3 separate regions of the Homo sapiens genome follow, and regions 1 and 2 are each linked to region 3. Evidence: fine-mapped expression QTL. A gene starts in region 3. Each other region holds a variant in brackets. All regions are shown on one strand. Distances are from middle to middle. Region 1 overlaps MTSS2 (MTSS I-BAR domain containing 2). Region 2 overlaps WWP2 (WW domain containing E3 ubiquitin protein ligase 2). Region 3 holds the start of NQO1 (NAD(P)H quinone dehydrogenase 1).

Evidence for each region.
Region 1: its variant is fine-mapped to the expression of NQO1 in fibroblasts (GTEx, PIP 0.99).
Region 2: its variant is fine-mapped to the expression of NQO1 in lymphoblastoid cells (GTEx, PIP above 0.99).

Annotation. Positions count from the first base shown.
Region 1 is chr16:70,673,237-70,681,413 of GRCh38, forward strand. It overlaps MTSS2 (MTSS I-BAR domain containing 2), which reads right to left. Exons shown (of 15, transcript NM_138383.3): 2 at 7,728-7,789; 3 at 7,558-7,631; 4 at 6,735-6,819; 5 at 6,550-6,641; 6 at 6,394-6,468; 7 at 6,079-6,087; 8 at 5,016-5,173; 9 at 4,556-4,663; 10 at 3,645-3,742; 11 at 1,070-1,292. Among named protein-coding and RNA genes, the nearest start is that of MTSS2, 8.7 kb to the right of the region's middle. The variant C/T (reference allele first, on the strand shown) is at 4,383.
Region 2 is chr16:69,788,226-69,796,402 of GRCh38, forward strand. The region is part of intron 2 of WWP2 (WW domain containing E3 ubiquitin protein ligase 2); the gene reads left to right. Among named protein-coding and RNA genes, the nearest start is that of WWP2, 30 kb to the left of the region's middle. The variant G/A (reference allele first, on the strand shown) is at 4,053.
Region 3 is chr16:69,723,230-69,731,406 of GRCh38, forward strand. NQO1 (NAD(P)H quinone dehydrogenase 1) reads right to left here and starts at 3,331. Exons shown (of 6, transcript NM_000903.3): 1 at 3,204-3,331. The coding sequence starts at 3,210. NQO1-DT (NQO1 divergent transcript) reads left to right here and starts at 3,498. Exons shown (of 2, transcript NR_186363.1): 1 at 3,498-3,946. RefSeq lists enhancers at 2,814-3,806, 2,893-4,092, 3,339-3,598, 3,807-4,800.

The DNA of each region.
Region 1 (8,177 bases), 950 kb after region 3:
ACAAGGAGAGGTTAAATAAAAATAAATCCACATTGTAGACACGCTGTAGCAAAACTAAAGAGAAGGCCTAAAAGTGCCCAGAGAGAGACTCAGATTCCTCAGAAAGAAGCATCAGTGACTGACAGCTGACCTTCCAACCAATGGTGGAAGCCAGAACACAGCGGAAAAATACCTTCACAGTGTGGATGGAAGACAACTGTCACCCCAGAATAGTGTTCCTGGCAAAACGAACTTTCAAGAAGAGGACAAAATAAAACATGTTTACAGACAAACAAACAAAAACTGAGAGTTTACAACTACAGATCTATTCTAAAAGAACTTCTAAAAGATGTTTTTTACTTCAGAAAGAAAGAAAATAAGCTTTGGAGGATTTGAGATGCAAGAAAAAAATGACAAGAAATGTGTATTAACATATGGGTAAATCTAAATAAGTACTGTATGTATAAAATAAAGAAATTAAGAAGAAAAATGTCATTTGTGGGTACTGTAAAAAAAAAGAGAAAATAATATAGCTTGTAAGTTTGAGAAGGAGTGGGTGACAAGTAAAAAAATATATATTAAGGGCCTTGAATTACTCAGGAGGTGGGGTTGTGTTAAGTATGCATATGGTAAGATTTCAAGGTAACCTATAAAAGAAAAGAGACAGAATATAACTTACAATCCAGCAGACGGGGAATAAGAGAAAAGAAAAAACAAAGTCAAGGGTAGAGACAAGAATTCAGGACAAATAGAAAGAAGAAAGCCAGAAGTCCAAATATGTCAGTAAATACAAAGGGGCTAAAAATGGCAATTAAAAGATAGAGGTTGTCAGATTGGATAAAAAAAGAAAATCTAGGCATTATGCTGCTTACAAGAGACTCATTTAAGATATAAAGATATGTGAATTTAAAAGCAGAGATAGAAAATAATAATATAAATACTGAACAGAATAAAGGCCTTGGGGGCCTTCAGGCCAGTCTCAACAGCTATAGTAGTCTCAACAGCTATAGTAGTCCCGCATGTGGCTTGCCTGATGCTGGCATAAGGCTGCTGCACCCCACCCTGACTGATCCTCCTAACGCCCCCTCACCTGGCTGGTGATGTCTGAAGGCATAGGCGAGGGGGGCTTGGAGTAGGTGGCGTCCTGGGAGACGAAGCCAGAGTCATGGGAGGAAACGCTGGAGAGGCGAGCGGTGGTGGTGGCTGGCTGCGCCAGGCTGCGGTAGCGACAGGTGGAACTGGGTGAGTATGTTTGGGCACCCCCAGGCCATGGGGCTCCGCCACCCTTGGCACTGCTACTGCTGCTGGGGGCACTAGGGGAGTGAAGGAAGAGGGCACAGCAGCCAGACAGGGAGACAGAGGGGTGTGTGTTTGGGGGAGGTTGACAAACGAGGGTGGGGAAAGAGGTGAGGGGCAAAGGAAGGAAAAGACAATGTCAGACTAGGAGGTCCTGAGACCCAGGTGCTACACAGGAGCTGTGTTCTGGGACGGTGTGGAAGGGGAGGGCCAGAGCAGGGTACCCCCAGCCCCAGTGCTGAGGGGAGCCGTGGTCAGGGAATGCCCAGGGTGAGGCAACCTCTCTGCCTCCTATTCTGCCACTAAGAACAGTTGTCCAGGCTGGGCACAGTGGCTCATGTCTGTAATCCCAGAACTTTGGGAGACCAAGGCGGGTGGATCATTTGAGGACAGGAGTTCAAGACCAGCCTGGAGAACATAGCGAAACCCCATCACCACTAAAAATGCAAAAGTTAGCTGGGCATGGTGGCGCATGCCTGTAATCTCAGCTACTTGGCAGGCTGAGGCACGAGAATCACTTGAACCTGGGAGGCGGAGGTTGCAGTGAGCCAAGATTATGCCACTGCACTCCAGCCTAGGAGAGCAAGGCTCTGTCTTGAAAAAAAAAAAAAGAAACAAGAAACAGTTGTCCTGTCTGGGCGTGGTGGCTCACACCTGTCCCAGCACTTTGGGAGTCTGAGGTGGGTGGATTGCTTGAGTCCAGGAATTTGAGACCAGCCTGGGCAATAGGGTGAGACCCTGTCTCTACAAAATATATGAAAATTAGCCAGGCGTGGTGGTGCACACCTGTATTCCCAGCTACTTGGGAAGCTGAGGCAGGAGAATCGCTTGAACCCGGGAGGTCGAGGCCACAGTGAGCCATGATTGTGCCACTGCACTCCAGCCTGGGTGACAGAGCGAGACCCTGTCTCACAATGACAACAAAACCCAAAAAACCCACCAAAAAACCTATTGGTTTCACCAAAGATCTTAATCTAGATTCCTATATCCTAAAGAATATATCTTTATCACTGAGGCCTCAGCCTCCCGAGTAGCTGGGACTACAGGCACACACCACCATGCCCGGCTAATTTTTTTGTATTTTTTAGTAAAGACGGGGTTTCACCGTTTTTACCAGGATGGTCTCAATCTCCTGACCTCGTGATCCGCCTGCCTCGGCCTCCCGAACTGCTGGGATTACAGGCGTGAACGACTGCCCCCGGTGAGTCCAATCATTCCTAAACCACCTTCTCAAAATCTGGTATTTGCCATCCAGTCCTAACTGGATGTCTAGCATATGGTGATGGTGTGTGTGCGTACAGAGGTCACCTTCCAAGTGGGTCCTGCACCCACCATCACCCTCACTCTCTCCAATCCCTCAAGGGTGTCCAGCCCTCTATGGCTCACACCCTCAGCACAGCAATTCAACCCTTGGGTGGTGTTCCTGGCTAAGCGTGACCCTGAAGCCTCCCAGCCTCTGCCCCTGCTCATGGCTGTCCCCTGCAATCAGCCCCTTCACTGTGGGACGGCCACCCACGCAGGGTCTGAAGAGCCTCTCTCTGAGGTAGTAGCTGATTGCTGTGCCTGGCTTCTCCCAAGCTCTGGATGTCCAGCCAGTGATTCTGGGGAGAGGGGTGCCTGGCAAAGGGGGGCCCCCACCAGCACTTCACTCTGTGCTTACTGTCCTCCCCACCCAAGGAAGCTTGAACCATCAATGTCTCCTCCAAACCCAGCCCCAGTGCCCAGCCAAGGAAAGGCCCCTGATCCTGAGCCTGGCTAGTGACTGCGAGATCCTTGGCCTCTCCCCAGCTGTGTGAGGCTCCCGGGGCTAGCCTGGGCCAAGGCTCCAAATGCGGCAGCTGCCTCCATGGGAACCAGCTCTTAGGAGCCAGCCAGGCTGGAGTGTCCTATACCTTATGGCCCCAACACTTGTTTCTAGAAGCCTTCCCATCTCTCCCTGATCTTTGACTCTTACTATGACCCCACACGGTGCTAGGCCTGGCAGAGTCCAGTGGTTAAATGCTGGGACTTCATGTGTCAGTTTCCCCTTCTGTAAAATGGAGATGACACCATTCCTGATACAGCAGTGTTAGGATTCAATGAGAAAAAATGCATAAAGCACTTAGCACAGCACCTGGCACATAGTGGATGCTCCATAAATGAAGCTGCTACTGCCCCTGCTTCCTATTCTGCCAACAAATGCCTGTGCCAGTAGCAGTCTTGGGATGACAGGGCACATTTTCCCTCTACATATGCAAATTCCTCGGATGGTGTAAAAGTTGTGAATTTTGAGGCCCTGAAGCAATTTCTGATGCAATTTTGCTGGGAACATCCCCACTTCCTCTTGGGATACCGCCCCCCACACCCCTGGGAACCCCACCCCCACTGACCTGCACATGCTGGACTTCCGGGAGCTGGAGCTGCTGGGTGATGAGGGTGGGGTCTGGTAGGACCAGCTGTAGTCCGAGCCCTTTAGGTCTTTGATTACCTGGACAGGGACATGGATGGGGGTCACTGGAGGCAGCTCCTCAGAGCTAGTAGGGCCAGAGGCCCCCCCCCACTCTCTAATTGTGAACCACATCCCAGGAGAAGACCCAGAAATCTGAAGCCCCCTCCCCCAGGCTCCTCCTAATGTGGGGAGCAGGGAGACACCAGAGGACACAGCCTTCTCGGAGCCCCTTCAGCTAACATGCACTGAGTAGAGATTCCGAGCCCAGCCTGGGCTGGGCGAGAGTGACCCTGACACCATGGGGTGCAGGTTGCTCCTGCGCCTCCCTGAGTTTGTTTACTCCTGTTCCTGTCTTAGAGTGGAAGATTCCCTGAGATAACGTGGCAGATGCTGGGCATGCAACAAGTGCCTCTGGAGCGTGCTGCCCGCAGGCTGTGGGACAGGACTGGTCTGAGTGCAGTGGCAGCAGGGCTGGGGTGGGGTGGCCAGGTACGCCTGGGTCTAGGGGAGGGGATGGGGTTTCTGGCCATGAAGGGAGGTGGGGCGTCTCCAGGTTCGGCAGGAGGTCTGCCCACATGGAGCAGGGCAGGCAGACTCTGGGCCTGACTCCATGGATCCAGGACTTCACCCATCTACTCTGAGTCTGAGAACGCTGCTGGCCAGGGCATACCCTCCCCGA[C/T]CTGGGCAGGTGCTCCGGGATGGCCTGCAGTGGGTGTCAGAAGGGGTCTGGTCTTATGCCCCTAGCTGCCTCCCCCAAATGCCATCCTCTTTTCCCCTTTACTGTTCCCAACCTAGGGCAGCCCATCTCCTCCCTGCCCCTGGCCCTGGCCCTTGGCCAGAGGGCTCCCGCACCTGCTCGCTGGCGGGAGGCAGTTTGTGGGGTTCTGCTGTCAGCACCACCAAGTCGTCGATGATGCCCTGCAGGTGGGTGATCTCTCCCAGCATGGTCAGCTCTCCATTCTGAGGAAGCAGCGAGTCAGACCTGCTGGCCCTATCGCCCACCTGCCCGCCTGCCCAGCGCCCCTGGAGAAGCAGCAGCCCTTGTCGGGCCTCTCCTCTCTCACCCCTCCTCGCTAACCAATGCTGCTCGGGGCTGGTGCAGGTGGGGCCCACACAGCCCAGAGGGCTGGCATGATGGTCTCTCCAGACCAAATCAGTGCATGGTGAGCTATGAGACCTGCCTTTGGGCCAGGAGCATGTGGCCTTGATGCCCCCAGCCAGGGACTGCTGAGAAGTGACCCTTCTTGGAGGTCAGAAGGTCAACCCTGGGCCCAGCCCACCCCTCTGGGGTCTGAGTCCCCAGGAGTCCCACCACCACAGGCTGCAGGAAGGTGATGAAGGTGCAGAAGCGGCCCCGCTCCTCGATCAGCGCCCGGCGCACGGCCTGCTTCTCCGTCTCCTCCAGCAGCAGGTACATGTCGTTGACGTCCTGCAGGGCACTGTCCAGCTGGGGCTGCAGGTCTCCTTTCCCTGGAGGGGTGGGGAGGAGAGGCCTTGCTGGGGATGCCAGCCTGGCTTGCCACACCCACAAATGGGCTCAGACCCTGGTGGTGGCATCTCTCGGCCGTTGGGCTGGGTGTTGCCCTGGGGCCAGGGGACTGCGGAGGGCAGTGAGGACTCTGGGGCTTGTGGAAGGGCTAGTCCCACCAAAGCAGGCAGAGAGGACAGACACACACACAAGAAAGAGGCCAAAGCTGCAAAGCCACGCTGGATTGGGGCATCTCCGGGGGAGGCTCTTGGCGCCCAGGAGCTCTGCCAACACGGAGACTCGCTGGCCTCCACCTGGGGTACCCTCACTGACCCGGGATGGCGCCCCTCACCTCACAAGGTCCAGGGAGGTGGGGCAGAAGCGGGACAAGAGAGAGTGTGGGGCTCAGCTGTAGGCCAGGCCACAGGGGGCGGGGGCCAGGAGAGCTAGGGCTGGGCCTTGGAGGCAGGGAAGGGGTCTCAGTGTGGGTCCCCACTCAGCTCAGGGAGCAGAGCACACAGCAACAGCGACACAAGAAGCAGCAAGAAAGAGAGAGGCGAGAGGATGATGCAGAGGAGATGATGAGATGGCAGGTGAGGAGGTGACAAGTAAGGACGCAGGCCAGCCTGGTGGGGGCGGGGCAGCCAGGGCCTGTGGCCCCCATCCCGCCCTGGCCAACCCCTCCTGGCCTGGCAGACTGACCCAGCAGTGGCCCGGGACTCATCCCTGGCCAGGGACCCCGGGGGCCCCAGGGGGACTGTGCCCCAGGCCCCTCCCTCGTGGACCGACCGCCTTCCTCGCTTCTCCTTGGCCTGGAGAGGTTCCTTCCAATGGCCCTGAGCTGGGGGAGACAGACAAATGCGACAAGGACGGGAGGAGCAGCTGGAGGGACCGACATTTGACTTACCAAGTAGCTCTACAGGAAGGATGTGGGAGGAGAGGAGGAGAGACAGAGAAAGAAAGAATGTGTGAAAGACGCCGGATGGACAGAGCCACTCCTGGGGCGGGGGTGCCTGGGCCTCCTGCTGCCTCCCATAGGGAGGTTCTGGACCAGGTTTGGGGGGAAGGGCAGCTCCCTCTGTCCCACCCAACAGGTTGGAGGGTCCTGTGTCGGGGACAGCGCCCCTCTGGCTGGGATGAAGGCTTTGGGGCGCCCCACGGGGCGGTGGGGCTGTGGAGCGGGGCCGTGGGGCTGTGGCTGGGGGGCCGCGCCAGGCACTACCTTTGCGCGCCTTCTTCTGCAGCTTCAGCGTGTCCGACGACTTCTTTTTGATCTCATGCCGGGCTCGTTTGTACTCTGCAGAAGGGGAGAGCGGAGCGCTCTAATGGGGTCCCTGCGGAGTGGGGGGTGGGAAGCCCGGCTCCGCGCCACCCTCACCTTTCGCGTGGTCCTTGTCCAGCTGGTTGGCCGCCTTCTTCCAGTCCTCGATGCGCTCCTGCAGCGGGTTGATGAGGCTCTCCAGCAGTGCGCTGCGGAGGGCGGGCGGGAGCGCAGGTCAGGGCCGGGCTCCCCCGCGACGCCCCGTCCCCCCGCCCCCCTGCCCGCCCGCAGCGCCCACTCACTTGGTGAACTGCCGCAGCTTGGTCTCGATGCTGCGGTGGCGCATGCACATGCGTGTGAGCGCCGAGCCGATGTCCCTCGTGGCCCCTGGCGAGGCAAGCGCGGGGTGGGAAGGGGCCCGCTGGGGCCTGCGCAGTCCCGGCCTCGGGCCAGGAGGGGGCGCCCCGGCCGCGCAGGCGGAGCCCGCAGCCCGCGCCCTGCCCCCGCCGAGCCGCAGTCCCGCCGGCCCTGGGGGATTCGGGGCCTCCTCCATCTCCACCAGCTCTTCCTCCGCCATCCCAGCCGCGCCAGCCTCCTGCGGCGGCCTCCCCTCTCTCCCAGCTGGGAGAGGCCGGCGCCAAAGACCGTTCCAGGAGCCGGCCAAACGACCCTCCAGGTGTGCCCAGATGCAGGTGCGGGAGTGTGAGCACGCCCAGGGCCCGAAGGAGCGGGAGCCCCAGGTCTCTGCCACTCGGACCAGAGGGCAGAGGCGGCGCCAAGCCCAACGGCGCGCTCACCTGACCCTGCGTGCTCTTAGAAGGACACGAGGGCATGAGTGGGAAGAAGCCCTAAGGAGAATCTCTGTGCTGGGGGGTCACATGAACAGCCCACAGCAAAAAGGGAATCCCCGGGGAACACTCCTGTCACTACTTACCCACTCCTGCTTGCATGCCTCTTGTGACGAGGGGCTCACTCTCTCCACAACCAGCCCACTCCACTAAGGAGCAGAACTCAAGGTTCTGGGCTTGGCGTCCCGTCCTTTCCCTGGCCCATCCCCTACTCTTCCTTTCCAGCCTCCAGGCCCACCCTGGGGCAACCCCAACCTCCAGCCACGCGCCTCCCCACCTCGGGTGTTGGTAGCCATGTCAGCCACTTTCTGGAAGGCATCCAGGAAGGCCACAGCAGCCAGCACGGTGGTCCTGGGGAGAGGGACAACGGCATGGATGGTCGGTGGTTGGGCGGGGGGGGGGCCTCTGCCTGCCCCTCCCCTGCTGGGGTGCCCTGGGCCACCTCACCTCAGCTGGGAATGCAGCTTCGTGGCCTTGGAGTTGAAGTCCTCCCAGATAGGGTAGGAGCTCTGCCGGGCAAATGGGAGAGAAAGTGAGCTTCTTGTGGGGTGGTTGCAGGGCTTGACCTGGGCCGGGCTCCCTGCATGCTCCATCCAGACTTGGGGCAGTTTCTAAGACAGCAGCCCTGCCCCATGGAGAGGGAGGCTCTGGGTCCTCTCGGAGGGCAGAGGACCAAGGACAGAGCCATCAGCATGAGGAAAGCCTGTCCCTGGGAACGGGCGCCTTTGCCAAGCCCTCCCTCCCTGACATCAGGACATCCACCCTACAGGCTACAGGGGGCTCACATCCTCCCTCAGGGGAAATGGAGCAGGAAGTGGCAGGTCCTGTCCCCTCGGGGTTTCCCAGGGGCCTGGCAGGGGATCTGGGCTGAGCCCAATGAGAGGCATCGTGTCTCCC
Region 2 (8,177 bases), 65 kb after region 3:
GGAGGATCACTTGAGCCTAGGAGTTCGAGGCTGCAGTAAGCTGTGATTGTGCCACTGCACTCCAGCCCAGGCAACAGAGCAGAGCGAGACCATGTCTCAGAAAAAAAAATGTAAGCTGGGTCTTGTCACTCCTCTGCTCAAACCATTCAAGGGTGCTCCATTTCACAGTAGAAGCCGAAGCTCCCATGTGATGTGACCCTTCCCCACCCCACATTTCTCATCTCCTGTTCCTGGTCTACATTCTCTGTGCCCCAGCCTCCTTGCTCTTCAGTGAATACACTGGGCAGGCGTCTGCCTCTGGGCCTTTGCACTTGCTGTTCCCTCTGAGTGAAATGCTTTTCGCTTCATTATTTCCTTAGGCGTTTTCTCAAAAGCCACCCTCTTCCTGATCCCCTGATCCAACGCCACCTTTCTCATTGACTTCATCACATCTATTTCCCTCTCTTCTTTATATTTTTCTTATCAGCCCTTGTCCCTGTTTAATTAATTTATTTCATTTGTTGACTGTCTCCTTCAATAGAGTGTAAGATCCACAGTAAGAGATTTTTGTCGCTTTGGTCACTGTTAACTACCCCAGCCAGTAGAACAGTGCCTGACACATAGTGGGCCCTCAGTAAATAGTGCCTGAACGAAAGAATATTGCTTCGGGTTCCATAGCTCTGCAGCCATCACAGATGGGAGAGTGGCTCTCAGTATCTGAGCTCAGACCCCTCAGCCTGGTCCTCCAGAGGCAAAATTGTGTCTCTTGGGAATATTTTTCTTGAGTATTTTTGAAATGCAAATGTTATTTATATAATATACTCATGGAGTTTAAAAATCTTAGTTTTTAATTTTATTATTATTATATTTTGCGACAGAGTCTCGCTCTGTCGCCCAGGCTGGACTGCAGTGGCGCTGTCTCGGCTCACTGCAATTTCTTCCTCCCAGGTTAAAACAGTTCTCCTGTCTCAGCCTTCCAAGTAGCTGGGATTACCAGTGTGTGCCACCAGGCCTGGCTAACTTTTTTGTTTGTTTGTTTTTTTGAGATGGAGTCTCGCTCTGTTGCTCAGGCTGGAGTGCAGTGGTGCGATCTCGACTCACTGTAACCTCCGCCTCCCGGGTTCAAGCAATTCTTCTGCCTCAGCCTCCTCAGTAGCTGGGACTACAGGCGTGTGCCACCGCGCCTGGCTACTTTTTGTATATTTAGTAGAGATGGGGTTTCACCATATTGGGCAGGCTGGCTTCAAACTCATGACCTCATGATCTCCCCGCCTCGGCCTCCCAAAGTGCTGGGATTACGGGCGTGAGCCACCGTGCCCAGCCTCCTATAGTTCAAAATTCTTTCCTGCAGTCCTTCAGTGCTCCTCCTTGGAAAAAACCAGTATTGTTTCTTGTGTGTCTCTTCCAAGATACACCAAAAGGGATGCATTTTTGTAATTTTGAGAGCCAGATTGCCTTCCTTGGAAGGAATACCCTTCTAGCAATGTGCGAGAGTGCCTGTTTCCCTACATCTTTACCAGCACAATGTTGTCAGACTTTTAACTTTTGCCTGTTTCATTGGTGCAAGCTTGTGTTCTCAGTGTAGTTTTATTTCCCACTTCTTTACTTACGCATTTGATCCTTGAACAGCATGAGGGTCAGGGGTGCTGATTCCCTGCTCAGTAAAAAAATCCACATGTAACTTTTGACTCCCCCAAAACTTTACTAATAGCCTGCTGTTGACTGAAAGCCTTGCCAATAACAGAAACAGTTGATTGGCTGGGTGCGGTGGCTCACGCCTGTAATCCCAGCACTTTGAGAGGCTGAGGCAGACAGATTCCCTGAGGTCAGGAGTTCGAGACCAGCCTGGCCAATGTGGTAAAACCCTGCCTCTACTAAAAATACACAAAAAAATTAGCCAGGCGTGGTGGCAGGCGCATGTAATCCCAGCTACTTGGGAGGCTGAGGCAGGGGAACCGCCTCAACCCGGGAGGCCGAGGTTGCTGTGAGCCGAGACCACACCATTGCACTCCAGCCTGGGCAACAAGAACGAAATTCTATCTCAAAGAAAACAACAAAAAAAGAGAAACAGTTGATTAACACGTATTTTGTATGTTACATGTATTATATACTGTATTTTTACAATAAAATAAGCTAGAGAAAAAATCATAAGGAGGAAAAAAATTTTACTATTTATTCAGTGGAAGTGGGTCATCATAAAGGTCTTCATCCTCATCATTTTCATGTTGAGTAGCTGAGGAGGAGGAGGAAGAGGAAGGATTGGTTTTGCTATCTCTTGGGTGGCAAAGGCAGGAGAAAATCCATGTAAAAGTGGACCCTTGTAGTTCAAACCTCTCTTGTTTAAAGGTCAACTGTATGATGTTTAGCATCTTTTTTTTTGTTTGTTTTTGAGACAGAGTCTCACTCTGTCACCCAGGCGGGGGTGCAGTGGTGTGATCTTGGCTCACTGCGACCTCTGTCTCCTGGGTTCAAGCGATTCTCATGCCTCAGCCTCCCAAGGAGCTGGGTTTACAGGCATGTGCCACCACACCTGGCTAATTTTTGTATTTTTAGTAGAGATGGGGTTTTGCTATGTTGGCCAGGCTGGTCTCGAACTTCTGACCTCAAGTGATCCGCCTGCCTCAGCCCCCCAAAGTGCTGGGATTACAGGTGTGAACTACTGCACCCGGCCAGTGTTTAGCATCTTATATATTTAAGGGCGGTTGTATTTCCTTTCCTATGGATTGCCTGTTCATGTTCTTTGCCTGTTTCTTATTACATTATTGATTGTTTTTGTAGTCTTGAAATATTTTAATTATATTTCTTGGAGTCTTTTGCCTTGCTTCTGCCCTTTTGAGTAGGGAGATGAGTTAGAGTGAACTAATATGGTTTTAAACTGGGGGCTACAGACTTTATTACCTTAGCTAATAATTAGCAAGTCTAGGTCAAAGCAGAAGTTGGCCTATTGGACCTGGTAACATCCTGAGGTCTCTGTTTTGGGGCCATGTTATTCAGCCACGCACACTTACTTCTTTTCTTTTTTTCTTTCTTTTTTTTTTTTTGAGACGGAGTCTCGCTCTATCGCCGAGGCTGGAGTGCAGTGGCGTGATCTTGGTTCACTGCAACCTCTGCCTCCCAAGTTCAAGCAATTCTCCTGCCTCAGCCTCCAAAGAAGCTGGGATTACAGGCACCTGCCACCACACCCGGCTAATTTTCGTATTTTTAGTAGAGACAGGGTTTCACCGTATTGGTCAGGCTGGTCTCAAACTCCTGACCTCAGGTGATCCACCCACCTCGGCCTGCCAAAGTGCTGGGATTACAGGCGTAAGCCACTGCACCTGGCCTCTTTTCTTTTTTTGAGACAGTCTTTCTCTGTTGCTCAGGCTGGAATGTAGTGGCATGATTACAGCTCACTGCAGCCTCAAAATAGGCTCAAGCAATCCTCCTGCCTCAGCCTCCTGAGTAGCTAGGACTTTAGGCATACACTACCATACTTAGCTAATTCTTAAATTTTTTTTATAGAGATAGGTCTTGCTGTGCTGTCCAGGCTGGTTTCAAACTCCTGGACTCAAGCAGTTCTCCCACCTTGGCCTCTTAAAGTGCTGGGATTACAGGTGTGAGCCACCGTGCCTGGCCCCCACCTCGGCCTCTTAAGGTGCTGGGATTATAGATGTGAGCCTCTGCACCTGTCCAGCACATACTTCTAAAGGCTTTTTTGTTGCCTTTCTTGAAGGTGAATTTTCTTACCAGGGTGGAAAGAGCCAGCTTGATAATACTGGTGTATCTCATTATACACATATTTAACCTACACAGATTTGGTAATACCATTCAGGAAAATGGTGGGGGGAAAGAGAAAGAGAGAAATAACCATTTAAATAGCGTAGGTGGTTCTTTTTCCCGTGCATTTCATGAAGAAAGCTGATAGTGTAACCTGTGGGGTGTGACTGCGCGGTTTCCAGTTCCCTTGTGCCTGCCCACAGTGTGATCCTGGTGTTTTAAGGTATATTTTTAAATGCATCGAGGCCCTTAAACGTAGGACAGCTATTTTATTTGATATTTTACTAGAGAAACACTGAAAAACTGATCTCTGAAAA[G/A]CATAGTATAATAAAACAAGAAACAAGCTGTTTGGAACTTATTGAGAGAGCAGATGCCAGACTCTATTGTGGTCCCTTCTTAAGAGCTTTTTCAGTGTATAATTTTGTCTTTATATGATTTTTGCCTGATTTGTTGACTTTAAAAGCTAAATCTCACATAAAGTCGTGACTCTGTGTATAAAGATATATTTCATGAAAGAGACTTTCTAGATAAACTTGCTCATATCTTTATTTTAGCCTGTCTTTTAAGAACAAGAAATATTCAAAATATCACCCTGCTGATTAACTGTAGGTTACAAATGTGTCAGTGGAGAGACCTGGCCAACTCCACATTAAGCAGATGTTCAAACTTAGTATCCCCAATGGCAGGACAACCTAATGTATGTGGTAAGAGGTACACGACATAACTTATGTAGTATTCTTCTTTCTTTTGAGTCAGGGTCTCACTCTGTCACCTAGGCTAGAGTGCAGTGGCACAATTACAGCTCACTACAGCCTCGACCTCCTGGGCTCCAGGGATCCTCCTATCTCAGCCTCTCGAGTAACTGGAACTACAGGTGTGAGCCACTACACCTGGCTAATATTTTATTTTTTGTAGATTTGGGGTCTTGCTGTGGTGCCCAGGCTTGTCTCGAACTCCTGGGCTCAGGTGGCCCTTCTGCCTCGGCCTCCTAAAGTGTTGCAATTACAGGGTGAGCCACTGTGCCTGGCCTTTAAACCGAATCTAATCATGAGGAAACAATTGTAATCACCCAGTGGGTTCTTCTTGCCCACTGCACAGATAAAATAAATTCACTGCTGGGCGCGGTGGCTCATGCCTGTAATCCGAGCACTTTGGGAGGCCTAGGTGGGATCATGAGGTCAGGAGTTCAAGACCAGCCTCGCCAAGATGGTGAAATCCTGTCTCTACTAAAAATACAAAAAAATTAGCTGGGTGTGATGGCAGGCGCCTGTAATCCCAGATACTTGGGAGGCTGAGGCAGAGAATTGCTTGAACCTGGGAGGCAGAGGTTGCAGTGAGTCAAGATTGCACCACTGCACTCCAGCCTGGGTGACAGAGCAAGACTCCATCTAAAAAAATAATAATAATAAATAAATAAATTCACTGGGACTGTAGCATTGCATTAGAGAAAGAGTTTAATTGACACAAAACAGGCCATATGGGAGACAGAGTTATCACTCAGATCAGTCTTCCTGGAGGCTCAGAGATTAGGGTTTTTATAGACAATTTGACAGGTAGGGGACTAGGGAATGGGTGCTGCTTATTGGTTGGGGATGAGATTATAGAGGTGTGGAAAATGGTCCTGTGCTGAGTCCACTTCTGGGTGGGGCCACAGGATAATTTGTTTCACGAGTCAAGTCACGGGCCCAGGCAAAGTCAGTAGATTGCCAGAAAGAAAAAATCTCAAAAGACCAACCTTAGGTTCTGCAATAGCGATGTTATCTATGGGAGCAATTGGGGAAGTCACAAATCTTGTGACCTCTGGCTTCATGACTCCTGAGCAGTAAGGGATTATAGAAACTATACCTACCTCTTATTAGAATTCAAGCCCCTCCCATAATCCTAACCTTGTGGCTGTTGATTAGTTTTACAAAGGTGGTTTCGTTTTGGGAAGGGCTGTTATTATCCTTGCTTTTTTTTTTTTTTTTTTTTTTTTTGAGACAGGGTCTTGCTCTGTTACCCAGGCTGGAGTGCGTTGGACAATCTCAGCTTACTGCACTTTCTGCCTCCTGGGTTCAAGCGATTCTCGTGTCTTAGCCTCCTGAATAGCTGGAACTACAGGCGTGCGCCACCACGCCCGGCTAAGTTTTGTACTTGTAGTAGAGACGGGGTTTCACCAAGTTGGCCAGGCTGGTTTCAAACTCCTGGTCTCAAGTGATCTACCTCCCTTAGCCTCCCAAAGTGCTGGGATTACAGGCATAAGCCACCATGCCCAGCTATCCTTGCTTTAAGATTAAACTATAGGCTGGGTGTGGTGGCTCATGCCTGTAATCCCAGTACTTTAGGAGGCTGAGGCGGGTGGATGACTTTGAGCTCAGGCTTAAAGTTTGAGACCAGCCTGGGCAACATGGAAACCCTGTCTCTACAAAAAATACAAATATGAGCCAGGCATGGTGGCTCACACCTGTAGTCCCAGCTACTTGAGAGGCTGAGGTGGGAAGATCGCTTGAGCCCCAGAGGTGGAGGCTGCAGCGAGATGAGATTGCACCACTGCACTCCAGCCTGGGCAGCAGAGGGAGACCCGGTCTCAAAAAAAAAAAGAAACTATAAACTAAATTTCTCCCAAAATTAGCTTGGCCCATGCCCAGGAATGACCAAGGACAGCCTAGAAATCAGAAGTAAGATGGAATCAACTATGTCCGATTTCTCTGTCATAATTTTGCAAAGGCAGTTTCACAATTAGAAAAATGTAGAATTTGCTGCATTCTTTAAAACAGCTGGTGGAAGTCTTTAAAAATCATTGTTGCCTTGGCAAAGCTGCTGGGATTATAAAAGAAAAAAACCAAAAAGTTAAACAAACAAAAATCATTGCCATGGAAAAGAAGGGAGGATGTTCTAGATTTTAAAAGATTAAGGAGATAGTAGCCACAGGCAATTTGTATATATTGATTAGGTACTGAATTGGGGGAAAAATGGCTTTAAAAATATGTCTGGGGACTGGGCAGTAGCTCATGTTTGTAATCCCAGCATTTTGGAAAGCTCTGGCGGGTAGATCGCTTGAGTCCAGGTGGATTCCTTGAGCCCAGGAGTTCGAGATCAGCCTGGCCAATGGGGTGAAATCCCGTCTCTACAAAAAAAATTAAAAAGTTAGCCAGGCGTGGTGTTGCGCACTGGTAGTCCCAGCTACTCAGGAAGCTGAGGTGGGAGGATCGCTTCAGCCAGGTAGGTCGAGGCTGCAGTGAGCCGTGATCGTGCCACTGCACTCCAGCCGGTCTACAACTTACTTTTTAATGGTTTTACCTAGGAAAAAAAATGCGGATACACACACACACACACACACACACACACACACACATACACAGAGACATAGATGGCATTTATCTATAACCTTTGGTGTCCAATAGAATAGTCACTGTAGCCACATAGAACTGTTTACACTTAAATTACAATTATATAACATTTAAAAATCATATCCTTATTTGCACTAGCCATATTTCAAGTGTCAATAGCCACATGTGTCTCATGGCAATGTATTGGGCAGCACAGATGTGGAACATTTTCGTCATCATGGAAGTTCTCTTGGGTAGTGATGCTATAGACACATAGAACAGAAAGCAAATGTGGCAAAATGATAACAATTGGTGAAGAGTATACAGTATTTATTGTTCTATTTCAATTTTTCTATAGATTGGAAACTTAAAAATAGGAGGTTTTTTTTTTTTTTTTTTTTTTTTTTGTGAGAGTCTCTCTCCATCACCCAGGCTGGAGTGTGGTCTCAGCTCACTGTAGCCTCCGCCTCCTGGGTTCAAACAGTTCTCATGCCTCAGCCTCCTGAGTAGCTGGGACTACTGTTGTGCCCCACCACGCCCAGCTAGTTTTTGTATTTTTGGTAGAGACAGGGTTTAGCCATGTTGCCCAGGCTGGTCTCAAACTCCTGGCCTCAAGTGATCTGCCTGCCTCGGCCTCCCAAAGAGCTGGGATTACAGGCGTGAGCCACCATGCCCTGCTTCAAAATAAGAGTACTAAATGCCAGTATGATCCTAGATTGGGGCCTGGACCAGAACAAATTTTTTTTTCTTTCTTTTTTTTTTTGCGATGATGGGCATCGATAGGACAATTGGCAAAATACGAATAAAGTCTGTAAATTAAATATTAGTATTATAAAAAGTTAAATGTCCTGATTTTGATAATTGTGCTATTGGTTATGTTAAAAAATGTGTTTGTTGGGAAATACACCCAGAAATATTTAGGAGTAAAGGGGCACAATGTCTAGAGCTTACTCTCAGAGTTTCAGGAAAAAGTGTGTATGTGTATGAGCGCAGATACTTCTCAACTTACAGTGGGGTTACGTCCTGAAAAACCCATCATAAGTTGAACATATCGCAAGTTGAAAATGCATCTGATACTCCTAATCTGCCGAGCATCATAGCTTAGCCTAGCCTACCTTAAATGTGCTCAGGACA
Region 3 (8,177 bases):
TTTATTTTATTGACTTCTCATCAATGTTAACAAGCATTTTCTAAGTAGTAAGACAGTCAAGGCACTTCTCAGAAAATGAGCAAATCAGGATATCCATCTCTTGCTCTTTCAAGGAGCTCAGACTCTAATAGCTATAAGCAGGCCTGTGACTTTACAATTTTTCATGTAAGGCAACACACAAGCAGGAATAATATATTTGCAACAAATATAACCATCAAAGTGCAGTACCTGGAATAGGTAGATCCCCAAAACAACTCAAAAGAAAAATGATCAAAAGAAGGTTGTGGGTGGGTCGCGGTGGCTCACACCTGTAATCTCAGCACTTTGGGAGGCTGAGGCGGGCAGATCACCTCATGTCAGGAGTTAGAGACCAGCCTGGTTAACATGGTGAAACCCCGTCTCTACTAAAAATACAAAAAAAAATTAACCAGGTGTAGTGGCAGGTGCCTGTAATCCCAGCTAATCGGGAGGCTGAGGCAGGAGAATTGCTTGAATCCAGGAGGCGGAGGTTGCAATGAGCCGAGATCGCACCATTGCACTCCAGCCTGCGCAACAGAGCAAGCCTCTGTCTCAAACAAACAAACAAAAAGATGCTTGTGAATAGGCAATTTAAAAGTTTTCTGGGCCCTGGAGGGTTCATTTTCCCTTCCTGCCACTTAACTAGCTGAGCAACATGACCTGGGAGGAGTTAGACTATTAGAGTTTACCCTGAGAGAGGCCACAAGATGCACACACGGATAACCTCTTCAGGGTACAATGGCATTAGTGTGTTAGGAGAGGTAAGGGACAAAGTTCAACAGAAGGCTGGGTGTGGTGGCTCATGCCTGTAATCGTAGCACTTTGGGAGACCGAGGCGGGTGGATTACTTGAGGTCAGGAGCTAGAGACCAGCCTGGCCAACATGGTGAAACCCCGTCTCTACTAAAAATACACAATTAGCTGGGCGTGGTGGTGGGCGCCTGTAATCCCAGCTACTTGGGAGGCTGCAGCACAAGAATCGTTTGAACCTGGGAAGTGGAGATTGCAATGAGCCAAGATCACGCCACTGCACTACAGCCTGGGCAACAGAGTGAGTGAGACTCCATCTCAAAAAGTTCAACAGAGGAAAACTTCAGGACCTCAGGGCTGGCCCATTCGGAAAGGCCCTCAGAGGAGCTTGCCATTTGAGCTGAATCTTGGTCTTGAACTCCTGGCCTCAAGCAGTCCTCCCGCCTCAGCCTCCCAAAAGTGCTGGGATTACAGGAATGAGCCACCACTCCCAGCCAAAATTTTTTTTTTTTTTAATTAGCTGGGTTTCAAGTTCTTCTGCTCTGACCAAAAAAAATTAGCTGGGTGTGGTGGCACACACCTGTAGTCCCAGCTACTCGGGGGCAAAGATGGGACAATCACTTGAGCCCAGGAGGTCAAGGCTGAAGTGAGCCCTGATCATGCCACTGCACTCCAGCCTGGGCAACAAAGCAAGACCCTGTCTCAAAAAGAAAAAAAGAAGTATGATAAAGATAAGCCTTTGTATCAGTTTCATGCATTCTCCTTCTGCCTTCTCTTCTCACTTGAGTGCTCCAGGGAACATGAGTGCAAATCAGATGCATCTATTAGTTGCAAACAAAAAACCTGGATGCTTTAGTTAACCTCAAGATTTGGTTAGCTGGGTACAGCTAAAACTAATTATACAAGATCCAAGTCTTCCCTTTTCACCTCATTACCACCGCCCTTTTTTGTGTTTAAGCTACACGTAAATACAGAACATTCTGTAAGATTGAAAAGTCAGGAAATAGTTCCTGCCCTAGTATTGGAGGAGAGGGTGCCAGTGCCTCGACGCTGAAGAATGAAATACAAGGGAAACAGCAACCACCGTGTATGCGGCAAGCCTCTCAGCTGTCAGAATCTATTCCCTGCTGTCTCTGCCAGTAACTCATGCTGGGCTACCAATCCCCAGCTTAGTCCCTTTCTCAGAGATCCTGATAATTTCAGTTTGTCAACTGCAAGGGCAGTCTGTTCCTCCACTCACTTTGACCAAGATGGGCTTCTTTGTGTACAGGCGCATTTTTAGAGGCAGGACCAGGTCCACAGGGAAGGAAATTACAAAACACAGGATTCTGCCCCAGATGAGGCAACAGCTTTCTAAATCTTAGTACTGTCCAATCTCAGAGTGAGATTATTTGGGAAACAGCTCTCAATCCCTGCAGTTGTCTCAGCTGGTTATTTATGCCTTGGGTGGAGCTGGGGTGACCTCTGAGTTCCCCTAGGGTCGATGGCCGAGTGGGAAGGCTCTATCACTGAAGTGGACCCAATACTAGAAACGGATCCAGTACGATCTGATCAGGTTTGCCTAATCCAAGGGCCTCAATGGAAAATGCCTCCCAAGGCCAGGCACGGTGGCTCACGTCAGTAATCTCAGCACTTGGGGAGGCTGAGGTGGGTGGATCACCTGAGGTCAGGAGTTCAAGACCGCGCTGGCCAACTTGGCGAAACCCGTCTGTACTAAAAATATAAAAATTAGCCGCGCATGATGGCGCACTCCTGTAATCCCAGCTACTCGGGAGGCTGAGATGGGAGAATCGCTTGAACCCGGGAGGCGGAAGTTTCGCTGAGCTGAGATAGCGCCATTGCACTACAGCCTGGGCGACAAGAGCAAAACTCCGTCTCAAACAAAACAAAACAAAACAAAACAAAACAAAACCTGTGCCTGGCAGCCTGGAGCCGGTTCTGGTCTCCGTCAAACCAAAGGCATCAGTTTCCTCCACTCCTGTCCACCAATCGCCAGATATTCTCATTTTCTTCAGAAGCTCGGAATCCACATTTTTAAGTGAAATCACCCATTTTAATGTTAGCAACTTATTTCAAAGTGTTTTAGATACTATAGACCAAAAGAGGTATGGGCTGTGACCGTAAGCCTGATTTGGCCTCTGACGGCCAGTTTCTGACCACAGTTTTGGAGGGAATTTCTGCTTCCAAGGTCAAGTTTCTCCTAAATGCCCACTAGAGTTCGTGGGGTGGAGTGAGGAAGGATCCGCGACACCGGATACAAACAGAAGCTCTCCTTCTCCCGGAGTCCGATCAAGGCTCATCCCAGGTCCCTAATCTCTTCCCTTTGTGGGTTTTGAGTCAAGGAACAAAATTCAGGGCCAAGCCCCTACAACCTCCTCCACAGGCACCAGTGCTCGAGAGACGACCGCCAAGCACCCCGCCCTTTGCAGCACTCACCGACCATGGCTCTGGTGCAGTCCGGGGCGCTGATTGGCTGGGCTCGTGGTTGCCGGGGCGACCCTGGCCGGAACTAGGCTCTCGGTGAGCTGGGCGGCTCCGGCTGCAACCTTGTGGGAGTCGCGTGTGTAGTGCACGGTGCATTCTCTCTTATATATCCTGTCCGGCCCGTTTGAGGTGGACAGCCTACAAGGGCGGGACCCAACGCCTGAATCCTGGGGTGCTGGGCGGAGGATGCTGAGGCTGCAGCTCCAGGAAGGGAGGGAGCCTGGGGGATGAAGGAGGGGCCTCTCCACTCTCACCCGCCGGAGCAACTGGTGGAAGTCAAGAAAAGTCTCTCGGGGCTGGGGGAGGGGATTGTAGGGGTGTGTGTGACAGAGGCCTCAAAAATCTGGCTGGGGGTGCTAAGGCAAGCCCATCTGCGCACTGTGCCCTGAGGTGCAAGAGGATGCAGGGTGGAAGTCGTCCCAAGAGAGTCCAGGGATCAAGTGGGCATGCCCTTTTAGCCTTGGCACGAAATGGAGCAGAAAAAGAGCCGGATGCGGATTACTGTGGTGCCCTAGGCTCAGATTCTGCTGAGTCACTGTGACTGCGGATTTGGAAGGCTGAGAGTCCTGGGGAGACATGCTCCGTGGAGACGAATTTGTTTCTTCCTTTGCAAGATTCAGATTCTGCACTTGGGGGCCCATACAACACACTTCCCTGGGTGCATGCCACTGCACCACCCCTGCTCCTCAAGGCAGGTAATGGGGGAACTAATTGGTTTTGTTTCCCATGAGCTAAGGCAAGGCTGGTGTGGAGATAGCAGTTATAGGGAAGCATATTAAAGAATAGCCAAAACGGGACCAGGCGCGGTGGCTCACGCCTGTAATCCCAGCAATATGGGAGGCCGAGGTGGGTGGATCACCTGAGGTCAGGAGTTCGAGACCAGCCTGGCCAACCTGGTGAAGCCCCGTCTGTACTGAAAAATTAGCTGGGCGTGATGGCGGGCGCCTGTAAGTCCCAGCTACTCGGGAGGCTGAGGCAGGAGAATCGCTTGAACCCGGAAGGCGGAGGTTGCAGTGGGTCGAGATCGTGCCACTGCACTCCCGCCTGGGTGACGAAGTGAGACTCCGTCTCAAAAAAAACTCTATAAAGTAAAAGTTACTGTAAAGAAGGAGATATACTCTCAGTAGGTGAAGGAAAAAGAACTAGAGCTTTAAAGTGGTAATTAACCATCAGAAGAATCACAGATGGGGGAGGTGAGGATGACACAGGGCCCTTCCGTTGTCCCTCCAGTGCAAAAGTTAAGGAGGCACCAGAAAACTGGTTTCCAACTCCCGACCTCAGGTGATCCTACCGCCTCGGCCTCCCGAAGTGCTGGGATTACAGGCATGAGCCACCGCGCCCGGCCCCATCGTGACATTTTTGCATTCATTTTGATGCAACAAGAGAGGACTATATTATTTACACGTATTTACAAATTACTTTGGGAGGCTGAGGCAGGAGGATCACTTGAGCCCAAGAGTTTGAGAAAAGCCTGAGCAACAAAGTGAGACCCCATCTGACAAAATAGTATAAAAGGACGTTTTAAAAAAGGGCTAGGTAGGCAGCCCTGTCCAATAGAACTTTCCCTATCTGTGCTGCCCAAGTAAGGTAGCCACAAGCTTCAAGTAGCTATTGAGCACTGGAAATGTGGCCAGCAGCCAGGCGTGGTGGCAGGCGCCTGTGTCCCAGCTACTCAGGATCTGAGGCAAAAAGATCGCTTGAGCCCAGGAATTCAAGGCCGCAGTGGTGGACTCAATAAAAGAAAAAAAATGGAAATTAAAAAAAAAAAAGTGGCCAGTGGACTGAGGAAGTGAAGTTTTAATTGTAATTAAATTAATTTTTTAAAAATTTATTTTTTGAGGCGGGGTTTCACTGTGTCGCCCAGGCTGGAGTGCAGTGGCAGGATCTTGGCTCACTGCAATCTCCATCTCCTGGGTTTAAGCAATTCTTGTGCCTCAGCTTCCTGAGTAGCTAGGACTACGGGCATGCACCACCACAGTCAGCCACTTTTTGTATTATTCGTAGAGATGAGTTTCACCATGTTAGCCAGGCTGGTCTCAAACTCCTGACCTCAGGTGATCTGCCCACCTCGGCCTCCCAAAGTGCTAGGATTACAGGCATGTGCCACTGCGCCTGGCTTTAATTAAATTTAGATAGCCACATGTCACTAGTGTTTGGAAAGACCTGAGCTGGTTCAGATCGAGGCCGCAGTGTGCTGGCTATTCTATCTCTCACTCTTCTAGTGAGATTGTTTTCTCAATCACCAGTCTCCCTGACCCATCCAGAGGTGGGGCTCAAAGCCACAAAGCTCAAGTGTCGTGTTCGGTCGTTGGTTTCCAGCATGGCCAGTTCCCATCCTCAGTCATCTTGTTAACATGAACTATATAGGGGCCCATCCCAAGTCATCTCATTAGCATAAACCATCAGGAGTGGTCTGAGAAGCCCACAATGAATAAGATGGACACTCCTATCATTTGGGATTTAGGGGCTCAGGGGCATGATGATAGTTCACTGCAGCCTCGACCTTCTGGAGTCAAGCAATCCTCCTGCCCCAGCCTCCTGAGTAGCTGAGATGACAGGTGCATGCCACCGTGCCTGGCTAATTTTTTTTTATTTTTTTGGTAGAGATAGGGTCTCACTATGTTGCCCAAGCTGGTCTCAAACTCCTGGGCTCATGTGATCCTCCCGCTTTGATCTCCCAAAGTGCTGGAGTTACAGGTATGTGCCACCACTCCTGGCCAAATTTGTTACTACACAGTGGTAAAGACAGACATTTGAGGTGGCAGTGAACCAAGATCATGCCACTGCACTCCAGCCTGGGCAACAGAGGGAGATCCTGTCTCAAAAGAAAAAAAGAAACTTACTGGCCGGGCACAGTGGCTCAGGCCTGTAATCCCAGCACTTTGGGAGACTGAAGCGGGTGGATCACTTGAGCTCAGGAATTGGAGACCAGCCTGGCCAATGTGGTGAAACCCCGTCTCCACTAAAAATACAAAAACATGAGCTGGGTGTGGTGGTGGGCGCCTCCAGTCCCAGCTACTCGGGAGGCTGAGGCACGAGAATCGCTTGAATTCAGGAGGCAGAGGTTGCAGTGAGCTGAGATTGTGCCACTGCACTCCAGCCTGGGCAACAAGAGCGAGACTCCATCTCAAGAAAAAAAGAAAAAGAAAAAGCTGCTGTGGAGCATGGGCGAGCACTGCTGCCTGGACAAAGACCGAGGGTCCTCGGGAGGGCAGTACTGATGTACAGGTTTCCAGCAGGTCGGCGTGTGTGTTCTCTCCTGCAGGTCTGCAGCCAGGCGTGCCAGGAGAGGGGGAGTCTGAGGGATTGATGTAGGTTGGGAAAGCATGATGAGAGGAGACAGAGTGGGGGCTGTGAAGAAGAGAGCGACTTGATGGTGGCGGTAGTTACACAGATGTATGTATTTATTAAAATCCGCTGAAAAGTACATTTTAAATACAAGCATTTTATTGTATGCATGTTATTCCTCAACAAAGTCCATTTTTAAAAAGTAGAGTGGTTGGAGTGATGACGAACATTATGAAAGGGCTTATTGGCAGAGAAAAAGTAGAGGGGTCCAGAGACTCAAGTTCCTAACGAGGCTGAAGTAAGAGTGGGGGATTAAATAAGGGCAAAAACTGAGAGAATAAAAAAAGTGGGTTGTTTGGGGCCAGGTGCGGTGGCTTATACCTGTAATCCCAGCACTTTGGGAGGCCAAGGCAGGGGGATCGCTTGAGCCCAGGAGTTCAAGACCAGCCTGGGCAACATAGTGAGACCCCCCCGCAACCCCCCCCACCTCTGCCATCTCTAAAAAAATTAAAAATTAGCTAGGTGTGGTGGTGTGCACCTGTGGATCCAGCTACTAAGGAGGCTGAGATGGGTGGATCATCTGAGCCTGGGAAGTCGACGCTATAGTGAGCTGTGACTGTACCACTGCACTCCAACCTAGGCAGCACAGTGACACCCTATCTAAAAACAAAAAGAAAAAACAAAAACCCAAGTGGGTTGATTGGGAAACACAGGAGATAGAAGTTAAAATCATGGGGAAACATCAGTCAAATCACAGTGTGGGACATTCTACAGGACAACCAACCTGGTTTATCCCATAATTCAGTGCTATAAGAAAAATGAAGGAGTGTATATTGATCAGGATTTTCCAGAGAAACAGAACCAATTGAATTTCTATAAATATATAAAAAGCAATATATTGCTGGGTGCAGGGCTCACACCTTGTGATGGTTAATAATGAGTGTCAACTTGATTGGATTGAAGGATGCAAAGTATTGATCCTGGGTGTGTCTGTGAGGGCGTTACCAAAGGAGGTGAACATTTGAGTCAGTGGGACTGGGAAGGGCGGACCCATCCTCAATCTGGGTGGGCACCAACTAATCAGCTGCCAGTGCGGCCAGAATATAAAGCAGGCAGAAAAACGTGAAAAGACTAGACTAGGCCTGGTGCCGTGGCTCACGCCTGTAATCCCAGCACTTTGGGAGGCCGAGACGGGTGGATCACTTGAAGTCAGGAGTTCAAGACCAGCCTGGCCAATATGGCAAAACTCATCTCTGCTAAAAATACAAAAAAATTTAGCTGGGTGTTGTGGTGCATGCCTATAATGCCAGCTACTCAGGAGGCTGAGGCAGGAGAATAGCTTGAACCCAGGAAGCAGAGGTTGCGGTGAGCCGAGATCACACCGCTGTACTCCAACCTGGGTGACAGAGACTCACCTCACCAAAAAAAAAAAAAAAAATAAGTGGGGCTAGACTGGCCTAGCCTCCCAGTCTACATCTTTCTTCTGTGCTGGATGTTTCCTGCCCTCCAACATCAGACTCCAAGTTCTTCAGCTTTGGGACTCGGACTGGCTTCCTTGCTCCTCAGCTTACAGATGGCCTATTGTGGGGCCTTGTGATTGTGTGAGTTAATACTACATATGTCTATCTTATTACTTCT